3 separate regions of the Homo sapiens genome follow, and all the other regions are linked to region 3. The links come from fine-mapping of genetic effects on gene expression. A gene starts in region 3. Each other region holds a variant in brackets. All regions are shown on one strand. Distances are between the middles of the regions.

Region 1 (4,243 bases), 38 kb after region 3:
TCAATGTCACCACAAAAGCTACTCTGAGGCTGGGCGCGGTGGCTGACACCTGTAATCCAGCACTTTGGTAGGCCAATGTGGGTGGATCACTTGAGGCCAGGAGTTCGAGACCAGCCTGGGCAACATGGTAAAACCCCATCTCTACTAAAAATACAAGAAATTTGCCAGGCATGATAGTCCATGCCTGTAATCCTGTAATCCAAGCTACTCAGGAGGCAGAGGCATGAGAATCGAGAATTGCTTGAACCCGGGCCAGGAGGCAGAGGTTGCAGTGAGCTGAGACCACGCCACTGCACTCCAGCCTGGGCAACAGAGTGAGACTATCAAACAAAAAACAACTACTCTCTTCTCATATTCTCATATAAAGCCAAAAAGAGAGAGTTGGAAAAGGAGGGAAAGCCCAAAGTTGAAGGAATCTAGTTTGTAGAAGAAAGACTGAGAAGAAATGCTGTTCTAGATGAGGGTGCTCTAAAGTAACAATGCTGCTCTGAACAAAATTATGAAGGAGGTAACTTTTACATTTAATATCTTCCCTGTTTCTGGTCTCATCCTCCCCTCTCAGGTACTCCATAACCGAGGACCTGTCCTCCCTGCCCTAATCAAGTACTCACCATTATCTTCCACCTCTCCTCTCAGTCCCTGACACCCGACAATACTCCCCTGAACAAATATTACAGTAGGGCCCTTTGTATCTACTAATTCTGCATCCACAGATTCAACCAACCACGCACTGAAAATATTTGGGAAGTAGCCGAGCGCAGTGGCTCACACCTGTAATCCCAGCACTTTGGGAGGCTGAGGCGGGTGGATCACAAGGTCAGGAGTTTGAGACCAGCCTGACCAACATGGTGAAACCCCATCTCTACTAAAAATACAAAAAATTAGCCAGGTGTGCTGGTGGGAGCCTGTAGTCCCAGCTATTCGGGAAGCTGAGGCAGGAGAATGGCGTGAACCCCGGAGGCGGAGCTTGCCGTGAGCGGAGATCGCGCCACTGCACTCCAGCCTGGGCGACAGAGCGAGACTCCGTCTCAAAAAAAAAAAAAAAAAAAAGTAAATAAGGCTAGCTCTAAGCCCGCGCGAAGGAAGAGTATTACATGACAGGTGTCATCAAAGAATTTCACTTACCACTTGGCTGTGAAATTCTTTTTTTTTTTTTTTTTTTTTTGAGACGGAGTCTCGCTCTGTCGCCCAGGCTGGAGTGCAGTGGCGCAATCTCGCAATCTCGGCTCACTGCAAGCTCCGCCTCCCGGGTTCAGGCCATTCTCCTGCCTGAGCGTCCCGAGTAGCTGGGACTACAGGCGCCCGCCACCACGCCCAGCTAATTTTTTTGTATTTTTAGTAGAGACGGGGTTTCACCGTGTTGGCCAGGATGGTCTCGATCTCCTGACCTCGTGATTCGCCCGCCTCGGCCTCCCAAAGTGCTGGGATTACAGGCGTGCGCCACCGCGCCCAGCCGAAATTCTTCTCAATTCACTTGAAATTCCCACACCTGAGGGATAAAGTTACTCTTTTAAGAGAACCAATACAAAGAGTATTTCTTCAAAAGGATGTTTTGAGTTAAAATACCTATATTTTCTGTGAAGTGAAGAGACAGCCCTGGATATGTCTCTTCCCCCAATTTTTTTTTCTTCATTACAACACATTATTTTCTCCATTAGCTAAAGGTTACTTTGGAAAGCATAGAGACAGTGCTTTGAGGGAATGGCAGAATGGCTGTGGTCCTTAAAAGAGGTGGAGAGGAGGGAATAGAGGATAAAGAATTGCAGGAGAAATTTGAAATGGCAGACCAGATACGTCTCGAACTCCTGGCCTCAAGTGATCTGCTCGCCTCAGCCTCCCAAAATGCTGGGATTATAGGCATGAGCCACCATGCCCAGCCCAACTAGCCCTATTATTAATGGAGCATTTTTAAATAGGTAGCTCAAAATAAGCATATGAAAAGATGCTCAACATCATTAGTCACTGGGGAAATACAAATCAAATGAAAACAACAATGAAAAAATACTACATACCCACTAGAATGGTTAAAATGGAAAAGACTGTTAAATAAAATACAAAATGTTAGGAAAATGTGGAGCTTTCATGTGCTGTTGGTGGGAATGTAAAATGGTACAACTACTTTGTAAAACAGTTTGGCAGTTCGTTAAAAGGTAAGTGTACACTTACCATACAAACCAGACATTCCAAACTTAGGTACTGACCCAAGAGAAATGATAACATGTGCTGCACAAAAACTTATATACAAATGCTTATAACAGTTTTATCTGTAATAACCAAAAACTGGAAACAACTCAATGTTGAAATGGTGAATGGATACACCAA[C/T]TGCAGTAAATTCACATAATTGAATACACAGCAATAAAATGAAATTAATTCCTGATATACACAACATGGATAAATCTCAAAGTAATTATGCAAGTGAAAAAAGCTGTTGCCCCGCAAAAAAAAAAAAAGAGTATATACCATCTGCTTCCATTCATATCAAATTATTAAAAATCTTCAGCAGATCATGGACTGTAAAAATATATAAAATGTTAGCAAACATATAGTGAGAAAAGGTGATCAATGGTTGCTTAAGGAATGGGCAGAGTGAAGGAGGGATGGCTTACAAAGGGGCATGAAGTAGGCCGGATGCGGTGGCTCACACCAGCAATCCCAGCATTTTGGGAGGCTTAGGAGGGTGGATAACTTGAAGCCAGGGGTTTGAGACCAGCCTGGCCAACATGGCAGAACCCTGTCTCTAATAAAAAGCCCTGTCTCTACTAAAAACCCTGTCTCCACTAAAAACCCTGTCTCCACTAAAATGCCCTGTCTCTACTGGGTGTGGTAGCATGAGCCTGAAATCCCAGTTACTCAGGAGGCTGAGGCACAAGAATCGCTTGAACCCAGGAGGTGGAGGTTGCACAAAGCCGACATCACGTGACTGCACTCCAGCCTACGCGATACAGCAAGACTCTGTCTCAAAACAACCCAAAGGGGCATGACGAAACTCATGGGGGTGATAGATATGTTCATCATTTTGATTGTGACAGTGGTTTCATGGATATATATATATATTTGTATATGTCAAAACCCATGAAATGACACACCTTAAATATGTACAATTTATCATACACCAAGTATACGTCAATAAAGCTGTAGTTTTTTTTTTTTTTAATTGAGTAGCACATCTTTCTCTCTTTTCTTGGTAGATCAGACAAAAGGCTTAGAATGACCATAGCATGACAAGGAAGATTACAACAGAGACTTTTCTTCTTCTAGGAAACATACAAAAGAAGAGGATAACAGAACAAAGGAAAGACCTTATTTAGTGATTTTATATTCTCCGCTACTCCTATGACAAGGACCACATTCCTTCCTCCAGAATGTCATTCTCAAAGTCAGAGACCACAGAAAGGAGATTTTCCGATTTAAGAACATCAACCCTGTGAATCATAATTCTGTCTTTCCACTTCACCAAGAGTCAGCAGGTGGTGCTAGTGACTAAAAAGTGACTTGGCAGACAATGAGGCAAGTTTCCAGGAAAAGAAAAATTATCGTCTAAGATTATCTGATATGTTGACCATTTGAAAGAAAATATTAATAGGCATTTGCCAGAATTGACATTTAGGAAATAAACTGAAGATAGGTACATAGTAAACAAAGTAAAATTTTAAATAAATTATAATTTAACAATAAAGGGTTGTTCAAGACATGAAACAATCAATATATACTACTTGGCTCCTCAATGGATATCATTTACACAGTAATACTAATGTAAACACTGACTATTGATTCAGCCAGAACTATGCTATAACTTTCTATTGGGAGGATGAGGTAAGGGGAAAGGAAAGGTGGGAATATAGCATGATGTAAGAGTTAAAATTTCAATTACTATAACCATAAGAGAGTAGATATGTCTAATATTTATTTTGTTTCCTTTTTTTTTTTTTTTTTTGAGACAAGAGTCTCTCACTGTTGCCCAGGCTGGAGTGCAGTGGCGCAATCTCAGCTCACTGCAACCTCTGCATCCCGGGTTCAAGCGATTCTCCTGCCTCAGCCTCCCAAGTAGCTGCGACTACAGGCATGCACCACCAGGCCCGTCTACTTTTTGTATTTTTAGTAGAGATGGGTTTCACCATGTTGGTCAGGCTGGTCTCAAACTCCTGACCTCAAGAGATCCATCCACCTCAGCCTCTCAAAATATATATGTAATGTTAGCACATATATAGTGAGAAAAGGAGCTCAATGGTTGCTTAAGGGATGG
Region 2 (4,243 bases), 29 kb after region 3:
AATCCCAGCACTTTGGAAGGCCAAGGTGGGCGGATCACTTGAGCCCAGGAGTTCGAGACCAGCCTGGCCAACATGGCAAAACCCCATCTCTACTAAAAATACAAAATTAGCTGAGTGTGATGACACATGCCTGTAATCCTAGCTACTCAGGTGGCTGAGGCATGAGAATCACTTGAACCCAGGTGGCAGAGGCTGCAGTGAGCCGAGATCTCTGGGTGACAGAGGGAGACCCTGTCTCAAAAGAAAAAGAAAAGAAAGAACGAACCCAGGTCATTTGTCCTGTAGAGTATTCACAAAGTCTGAATTTGCACCTTTGAGTTACCACTTAATGTCTCCTGTATTTCCTGTAAATTAGTAGTTAGCTCTAATCAGATTCAGACTGGTTTGTTTGTTTGTTTGTTTGTTTGTTTGTTTTTGGTATGGCTACTTCATGCAAGGTGGAGTTATGTACTCTATGATCAGGAAAACATGTTTATCTCTGTTTTCATGATGAATAACAGCCACTGTTTTTTTGTTTACGTAGAGATGGGCTCTTACTATGTTGTCCAGGCTGGTTTTGAACTCCTGGGCTTAAGCAATCCTCCCACCTCAGCCTCCCAAAATGCTGGGATTACAGGTGTGAGCCACTGTGCCCTGCCACAGTCATTGTTGACCATTGCCTAGATATATTAATTCATTTGGATTTACAAAATGTTGATATTCTAATTATATTATCCCTTCTTCAATTATTTACTGGAATGCTTCTATAAAGAGAAATTTCCCCCTCATCTTGAGATACAGTTCCCAAAAGAAAACCAGGATAAATACTTGATTCTTTCCAATTACCAGCAGTTTTTAAAATAATGAGTTGATCTGCCAGCATTCTCCAACAATGACCAATGGGTTTGTATTTTTAAGTATCATTGTGAATTCATGGATTTAAACATATTTTATGAATTTCAATCCATTGCAGATAGTATCCATTTTGATACTTAAATTGCCCCATCTTTGGCCAATGGGAACTATTCTAGTTGGCTCCTAAGTTCTTTTATTACAATCCTAACACTCTTTGAAAGCTTCCTTGCCTATCTTGGACAATACCTGCCCCAAACCTGAAATCAGCCACTTATCCAAGGAGTTGTTTGTTGGTCCCTTTTAACAGAAAATGGTATTTACATAGCACAATTTGAGTACTAGAGGTGTTTATTTTTACTGGATCATTGTTTCCAGGCCTTTTTAGGGTAAAGCTAGGAAAATTTTAAGGATAAAATAAACCATGAGTTCAGAGTTATATTTGCAATTTAAATTCAGAATTACGGAGTTTTCTCTTAACTTCATCAATCGTAAATATGTATCTCTTTATTCCACCCCAAAAATTCTGGTTCTCAGAGACACTAACATTATTAATCATTTGTTTTATCTCATAACTAAAATAATCTCAGAATAACAATACCAACACTAACACCATAATATGGCTATTTAAAAATATTTTTGCATTTATTTTCTGGCATTATAGTATATCCCACTTAGGCTGTCATAGTCAAATTATTATGTTTTAAAGTCACTTGAATAGTTTGGTTAGAAGCATTTTACATTTCTATAATGAAACTGCTTGTGATATGGCCTCTAATGGTTGAGAAATATTTGTCATATATATATACCTGAGAAGTATATATTTGACAAAAATATTTGTCATATATATACCTGAGAAGAGTGCTATGAGGGCCTCTAGACTCTGTATTAAAATAGAGCCAACTGGTAAAGATGGCTTAGTGATTGTGTTGGTTATTACTGAGTGTCAATTTGATTGGATTGAAGGATACAAAGTATTGATCCTGGGTGTGTCTGTGAGGGTGTTGCCAAAAGAAATTAACATTTGAGTCAGTGGGCTGGGAAAGGCAGATCCACCCTTAATCTGGGTGAGCACAATCTAATTCACTGCCAGCACAGCTAGAATAAAAAGCAGGCAGAAAAATATGAAAGGAGAGACTGGCCTAGCCTCCCAGCCTACATATTTCTCCCATGCTGGATGCTTCCTGCCCTTGAACATCAGACTCCAAGTTCTTCAATTTTGAGACTGAGACTGGCTCTCCTTGCCCCTCAAGCTTGCAGACAGCCTACTGTGGGACCCTGTGAT[T/C]GTGTAAGTTAATACTTAATAAATTCCCCTTTATTTATATATCTACCTATATAGATATCCATATCTATATAGATATTAATAAATCTAGAGAGACAGAAAGCAGACTGGTGATGGCCAGTCTAGATGGCTAGATAGATAGACATGGATATAGATATAGATCTCTATATAGATAGAGGTAGATACAGATATAGATATATGCCCTATTAGTTCTGTTCCTCTAGAGAACCCTAATACAGTGACCGTATTTGGAATCGGTCCTTCTGTTAATTTCACTTGGCAAGTACTAAAAGATGATGATCTCAGATATACCTATGGCTGCAAAAACATGACATGGCTAAATCCCTTGGTTGCAGTATCTCTTTTCTTTTTTAAGGGGGGTGGGGGGGCGGGTCTCACTGTTGCCCAGGCTGGAGTGCAATGGCGTTATCATAGCTCACTGCAGCCTCAAACTCCTGCGCTCAAGTGACCCTCCTGCCTCAGCTCCCAAAGTGCTGAGATTTTGCAATATTTATGGTCACAAGATTATGTTATTCCATAAAAGTATCTTTCTGAGGCTAGGCATGTTGGTTCACACTTGTAATCCCAGCACTCTGAGAGGCTGAGATGGAAGGATTCATTGAGGCAAGGAGTTCAAGACCAGCCTGGTCAACATAGTGAGACCTCATCTCGGAAGGAAGGAAGGAAGGAGGGAGGGAGGGAGGGAGGGAGTGAAGGAAGGAAGGAAGGAAGGAAGGAAGGAAGGAAGGAAGGAAGGAAAAGTATATTTTTGAATCTTTTTCTATTTCTCCAACTCTTTCTTTAGAAGAATTCTATTTCCATTCTTTCTTCACCTCTTTGCCTTTGTTAGCCTTCTCTCCAAGCAAATCGGGAGCCTTTATTTTTTGTGTATTCATGAGGGAGAGGAAGATGAATTGCTGTACAAACTAAAGTAATGAAAATGGAGTAGGTAGGAGGATAGACAGCTGCAAGGATCTGAGCTGGATAGACTGAACAAACCCTCATCCTAAGCAACTCACAGCTCAGATTTCTTCTCTGGACAGCTGGCTTTTTTCGTCCTTCTGAAATACTCTGCAAAGATAGGAGAGGGGCTATGAACTACCTCTGCTATGGATCTTATTCAAAGTCAGCTACCTCCTAGATACTATCTGTAGAACCTAAATGTAATATTCAGCATAGCAGGGATGAACATGGTAAATGAAAGGTATCCAATTGCCCACTGTAATTTTTAAAGGCCAGGAGCTCAACATTATTGAAAATGCTGGAGGGCTGCCTGGAGTAGGCAGTGACCACAGAGTCACACAAGCTGGAATTGGATATCCAACTTGTCTGTCATATTTCTCTCCTCCCTCCCTGACTTGGCACTCAATACTCCATATTCTTTCTAATCCTCTAACCCTCCCCACTCCCCCAACTCCCACACCCTACCCCCACCAACGTTCCTGGAATTTTGGACTTAGCTATTTTTAAAACCGTCAACTCAGTAGCCACCTCCCTCCCTGCTCAGCTGTCCAGTACTCTGGCCAGCCATATACTCCCCCTTCCCCCCATACCAAACCTTCTCTGGTTCCCTGACCTCAGTGAGACAGCAGCCGGCCTGGGGACCTGGGGGAGACACGGAGGACCCCCTGGCTGGAGCTGACCCACAGAGTAGGGAATCATGGCTGGAGAATTGGATAGCAGAGTAATGTTTGACCTCTGGAAACAGTAAGTCAAAATGAAATTGCAATTCCTTTAATAAGCTTTTATATTGAAGTTAGACTTTTATAAAATTACAAACACCTACTTGGATGTCTCTCGTCCAAATGCTGGGATCTCTCCCTACCAAGGTGCCCCAATCTCCATTTCTCTTTCTGTCTTATTTCTTTCTGGCCTCTGGCCTCTAGCTTTTTGAAGTTTAATTCTCTGTCTCTCCTCTGGCAGTCTTAGCCCTCTCTTTACCTTATTACCTCAAGACTCCTGATGAAGTTTTAGAAGGAGTTCCCTACGTCCTCTATTCTGTAGTTTTCTTACCAAGGCCAAATATGACCTCAGATGATGAGTCACTGATACCCTTCTATCCTGCCCCCACTTAGCAATGCCCTTCACATTGAGATTCCAAGCATGGGGGCTGCTCCCTGTAAATGATTT
Region 3 (4,243 bases):
TCAGATAAAACAAATGTAAGTTTGTTTTATAGAATGGCTTGACCTCAGGAGTTTGAAACCAGCCTGGGCAATATGGTGAAACCCTGTCTCTACCAAAATACAAAAAGAAAAAGAGGGTTGCTTCCAAGATGGCTGAATAGGAACAGCTCCGGTCTACAGCTTCAAGTGAGATAGACGCAGAAGACAGGTGATTTCTGCATTTCCAACTGAGGTACCTGGTTCATCTCACTGGGACTCGTTGGACAGTGGATGCAGCCCACGGAGGATGAGCCAAAGCAGGGTGGGGTGTCGCCTCACCCGGGAAGTGCAAGGGGTTGGGGGATTTCTTTTTCCTAGCCAAGGGAAGCTGTGAGTGACTGTACCTCGAGAAGCAGTACACCCCTGCCCAAATACTGTGCTTTTTTCCACTGTCTTTGCAACCGACAGACCAGGAGATTCCCTCTTGTGCCTGGCTCGGCAGGTCCCATGCCCATGGAGCCTTGCCTGCTGCTAGCACAGCAGTCTGAGATCAACCTGTGACACTGGAGCATGGCAGGGGGAGGGGGTTCTGCCACTGCTGAGGCTTGAGTATGTGGTTCTATGGTCACAGTGTAAATAAAGTGGTAGGGAAGCTCGAACTGGGTAGAGCCCACTGCAGCTCAGCAAGGCCTACTGCCTCTAGATTCCACCTCTGGGGGCAGGGCATATCTGAATAAAAGGCAGCAGACAGCTTCTGCAGACTTAAACGTCCCTGCCTGACAGCAGGGACTGCTGTCATAATCATTATGATTATGAATCATAATCATGAAGACAATCTGTATTCCAGAATAGTAAGGGAACCTATTCCATCAGGGAGCCAACTGAAAACATCAAATCCCAGTTCACACCCCAGGGTGTGGTGTCATGCACCTGTAGTCCCAGCTACTTGGGAGGATTAGTAAGGAGGTTTGCTTGAATTCGTGAGGTCAAGGCAGAAGTAAACCCTGATCATGCCACTGTACTCCAACCTGGGCGACAGTGAGACCTTGTCTCAGAAACAAACAAACAAACAAAAAACCCCACAAAACCAAACAACAACAAATTGTCACCTCATTCTGAAATGACAGTGGCAAACATCACTTTGCTATTTGAAAATTAAAAGAAGCCGGGCGCGGTGGCTCACGCCTGTAATCCCAGCACTTTGGGAGGCCGAGGTGGGCGGATCACAAGGTCAGGAGATCGAGACCATCCTGGCTAACAGAGTGAAACCCCATCTCTACTAAAAATACAAAAAATTAGCCGGACGTGGTGGCAGGTGCCTGTAATCCCAGCTACTGGGGAGGCTGAGGCAGGAGAATGGCGTGAACCCGGGAGGCGGAGCTTGCAGTGAGCCGAGATAGCCCCACTGCACTCCAGCCTGAGCGAAGAGCGCGAGACTCCGTCTCAAAACAAAAAAAAAGAAAATTAAAAGAAAAACACTCCCTCTTGCTATCAACCTGCCCTCTTGCTCTAACTTGTCTGACCCATGGTTTAAAATGCCCAAAAGCTGATGTACTCAAATTATAGTACACTTACCTGTTCTGCACCAGCATTTACTTTTGTCTGGAGGAGATCACCATGCATGGTCCTATACATGTCTAATGGCATGGAATGATGAAGGGTAGTGTCTTTTAGGATAGTTGGATACATATATATATATATATATATATATATATATATATATATGCGGAATGCTACATCACAAGAATAAGAATGTGAAAAGAACCAGTTTCTTTTGTAATCCTAAACGTTCTAGTCTGAGAATTAAAAGCCATTGTTCGAAGAAGGGTGCCCAGGGTCCAGCTGGTCGCCGAAAGCTTGCTCCGCAATACAGGCTAAGGACCAGCTTCTTTGGAAGAGAACAGATGAGGGAAGCAGGAGAGAAAAAAGGGAGAGGCAGACGTCACTTCCCCTTGCCGGCTCCGGCAGCGGGTTGGTCGGCTGAGCGGCAGAAAGGCAGACGGGGACTGGGAAAGGCGCTGTCGGTGACATCACGGATAGGGCGACTTCTATGTAGATGAGCCAGCGCAGGGGCTGCTGCTTCGCCACATGCTGCTTCGCCACGAAGGAGTTCCCGTGCCGTGGGAGCGGGTTCAGGACCGCTGGTCGGACCTGAGAGTCCCAGCTGTGTGTCAGGGCTAGGAGGGCTGGGGGGGAGGGGGGTGTGCGCGGGGCAAGTGACCGTGCGTGTAAAGGGTGAAGCGTGTGAGGCTGCCGGCGGGGCGGAGGTGCAATAACTCATACTTACCTGGCAGGAGAGATACCCTGGTCACGAAGGTGGTTTTTCCAGAGCGAGTCTTATCCATTGCACTCCGGATCTGCTGACCCCTGCAGTTTCCCCAAATGTGGGAAACTTGACTGTATAATTTGTGGCAGTGGTAGACTGCATTCGCGCTTTCCCCTGTATTTTTGTCGTTTTAAAAATAGGTTTTGTTTGCTGCAGAAACGCATACTGGGCGTCAGCGTAAGCTGAGAATCAGGTCTTTGTTCCCATCTGTAACTTCACTGAAACTAAAAATTTGGGACATCGTGGTTCTCACGTTTGTAATCCCAGCAATCTATGAGGTACGTCGATAGGTTATGTTTATGTTAATATCGCTCGACCTCAGGCGTGTGTGGGCAAATATAGTGAACCCGTCTCTACTAATCTCTTATCTTTTTTTGTTGTTGTTCTATAGAAATAAAACTAAGCTTTTCTTTTCCCTATGGGATTAACAGCAAACAGTCCGCTGGAGTGTATGGCGCGATCTCGCCTTACTGCAACCTTTGCCTCCTGCGTTCAAGCTATTCTCCTTCCTCAACCAGAGAATACTCAGCCTCCCGAGTAACTGGCATTACAGGCTCAGGCAACCAAAAAATTAGGTCCGGCTAATTTTTTGAATTTTTAGTAGAGACATGGTTTCACCGGGCCGGGCGCACTGGCTCGCGCCTGTAATCCCAGCACTTTGGGAGGCGGAAGCGGGTGGATCATGAGGTCAGGAGGTCAAGACCATCCTGGCTAACACAGTGAAACCCCATCTCTAATAAAAATACAAAAAAAAAAAATTAGCCGGGTGTGGTGGCACGTGCCTGTAGTCCCAGCTACTCAGGAGGCTGAGGCAAGAGAATCGCTTGAACCCGGGAGGCAGAGGTTGCAGTGAGCTGAGATCGCACCACTGCACTCCAGCCTGGGCGACAGAGTGAGACTCCGTCTCAAAAAAAAAAAAAAAAAAAAAGAGTGACAGGGTTTCACCATGTTGGCCACCCTGGTCTTGAACTCCTGACCTCAAGTTTTCCGCCTGCCTCGCGGCCTCCCAAAATGTTGGGATTACAGGCCTGAGCCACCGCACCTGGCCTGTTTACAGACTTTACAGACACATTTTGTTTACAAGCTTTACAGGTACAGTTCAATTGCGATTAGTGTATATTATGTTTGGCCCAAGACAAGTGTCTTTTTTTTTTTTCCAGTGTGGCCCAAGGAAGCCAAAATTTAGACAACCCTGCTCTAGAGGGTTTGATTCATGGTTCCACTGGGTTATGCTTATTGCCTATAATTCCATTTGATATTTTCCAAATTTGATTTTTTAAAAAGCGTTTTCCTGAAGCACCCTAAAGCTTTCCTAATAATATGAGAACTTAAACCAGATTGGATGTGACAAAACCCTGCTGGAATCCTGCAACTTCTAACCTTAATGTTAGATCAAGAAGCAAAACACCCACCAGTCCAAGGGTCAGGGAAGCTGAAGATCATGCCTGAGCTGTAACAACGCCCTTCCCAGTATACAAAAGAGTGTAACAGCCACTCGAATTCTATCTTCCAAGTGTCTCCTGTTGCCCAGGCTAACCTAGAGCTATCTAAAGATGGCAAATCTGGGAAATGTGCATTCAGCTTGGCAAAACTGATACATTACAAATCCACCACAGTCCACTTCTTCTCAAAGTGGCATCAATGTACATCTTCCTCCTCTTCTTTTTTTCCTCCTCTTCCTCTTCTTTTGCTTCTTCCTCCTCCTTTTTCCTCCTTGTAAAATCATACTTAAGGTTCAAATAAAGACAATATGAAAATCATACTTTTTCTCATTCAGTGAAAATATGCCAACCCTTTCCCCAACAGGATAAAGTCTTTGTCTTTGAATGATGTTCACTCCTTTTTTAGCTAGATAGATCACATTCCATATTTGCTTTCCTGTAACCTAAATATTGAGATTTCTAAAAGTTAATTATTAATGAATGTGCTAGCTAGGGTGATGGAAGAGGAGAATTCTCA

What was found. PIP is the estimated chance that this variant, and not a neighbour inherited with it, causes the effect. A credible set is the group of variants that fine-mapping cannot tell apart.
Region 1: its variant is the best candidate, but not a certain one, in a credible set for the expression of LINC01719 in T cells (TOPMed, PIP 0.70).
Region 2: its variant is the best candidate, but not a certain one, in a credible set for the expression of LINC01719 in amygdala (GTEx, PIP 0.51).

The regions. Positions count from the first base shown.
Region 1 is chr1:146,012,408-146,016,650 of GRCh38, reverse strand. No RefSeq gene overlaps it. Among named protein-coding and RNA genes, the nearest start is that of HJV, 7.2 kb to the left of the region's middle. The variant C/T (reference allele first, on the strand shown) is at 2,323.
Region 2 is chr1:146,021,164-146,025,406 of GRCh38, reverse strand. It overlaps HJV (hemojuvelin BMP co-receptor), which reads left to right and starts at 3,672. Exons shown (of 4, transcript NM_213653.4): 1 at 3,672-3,820. The variant T/C (reference allele first, on the strand shown) is at 2,117.
Region 3 is chr1:146,050,239-146,054,481 of GRCh38, reverse strand. It overlaps LINC01719 (long intergenic non-protein coding RNA 1719), which reads right to left and starts at 1,886. Exons shown (of 3, transcript NR_125968.1): 1 at 1,534-1,886. It overlaps RNVU1-6 (RNA, variant U1 small nuclear 6), which reads left to right and starts at 2,238; the gene lies at 2,238-2,401. RefSeq lists enhancers at 1,568-2,299, 2,300-3,028 and a silencer at 2,149-2,388.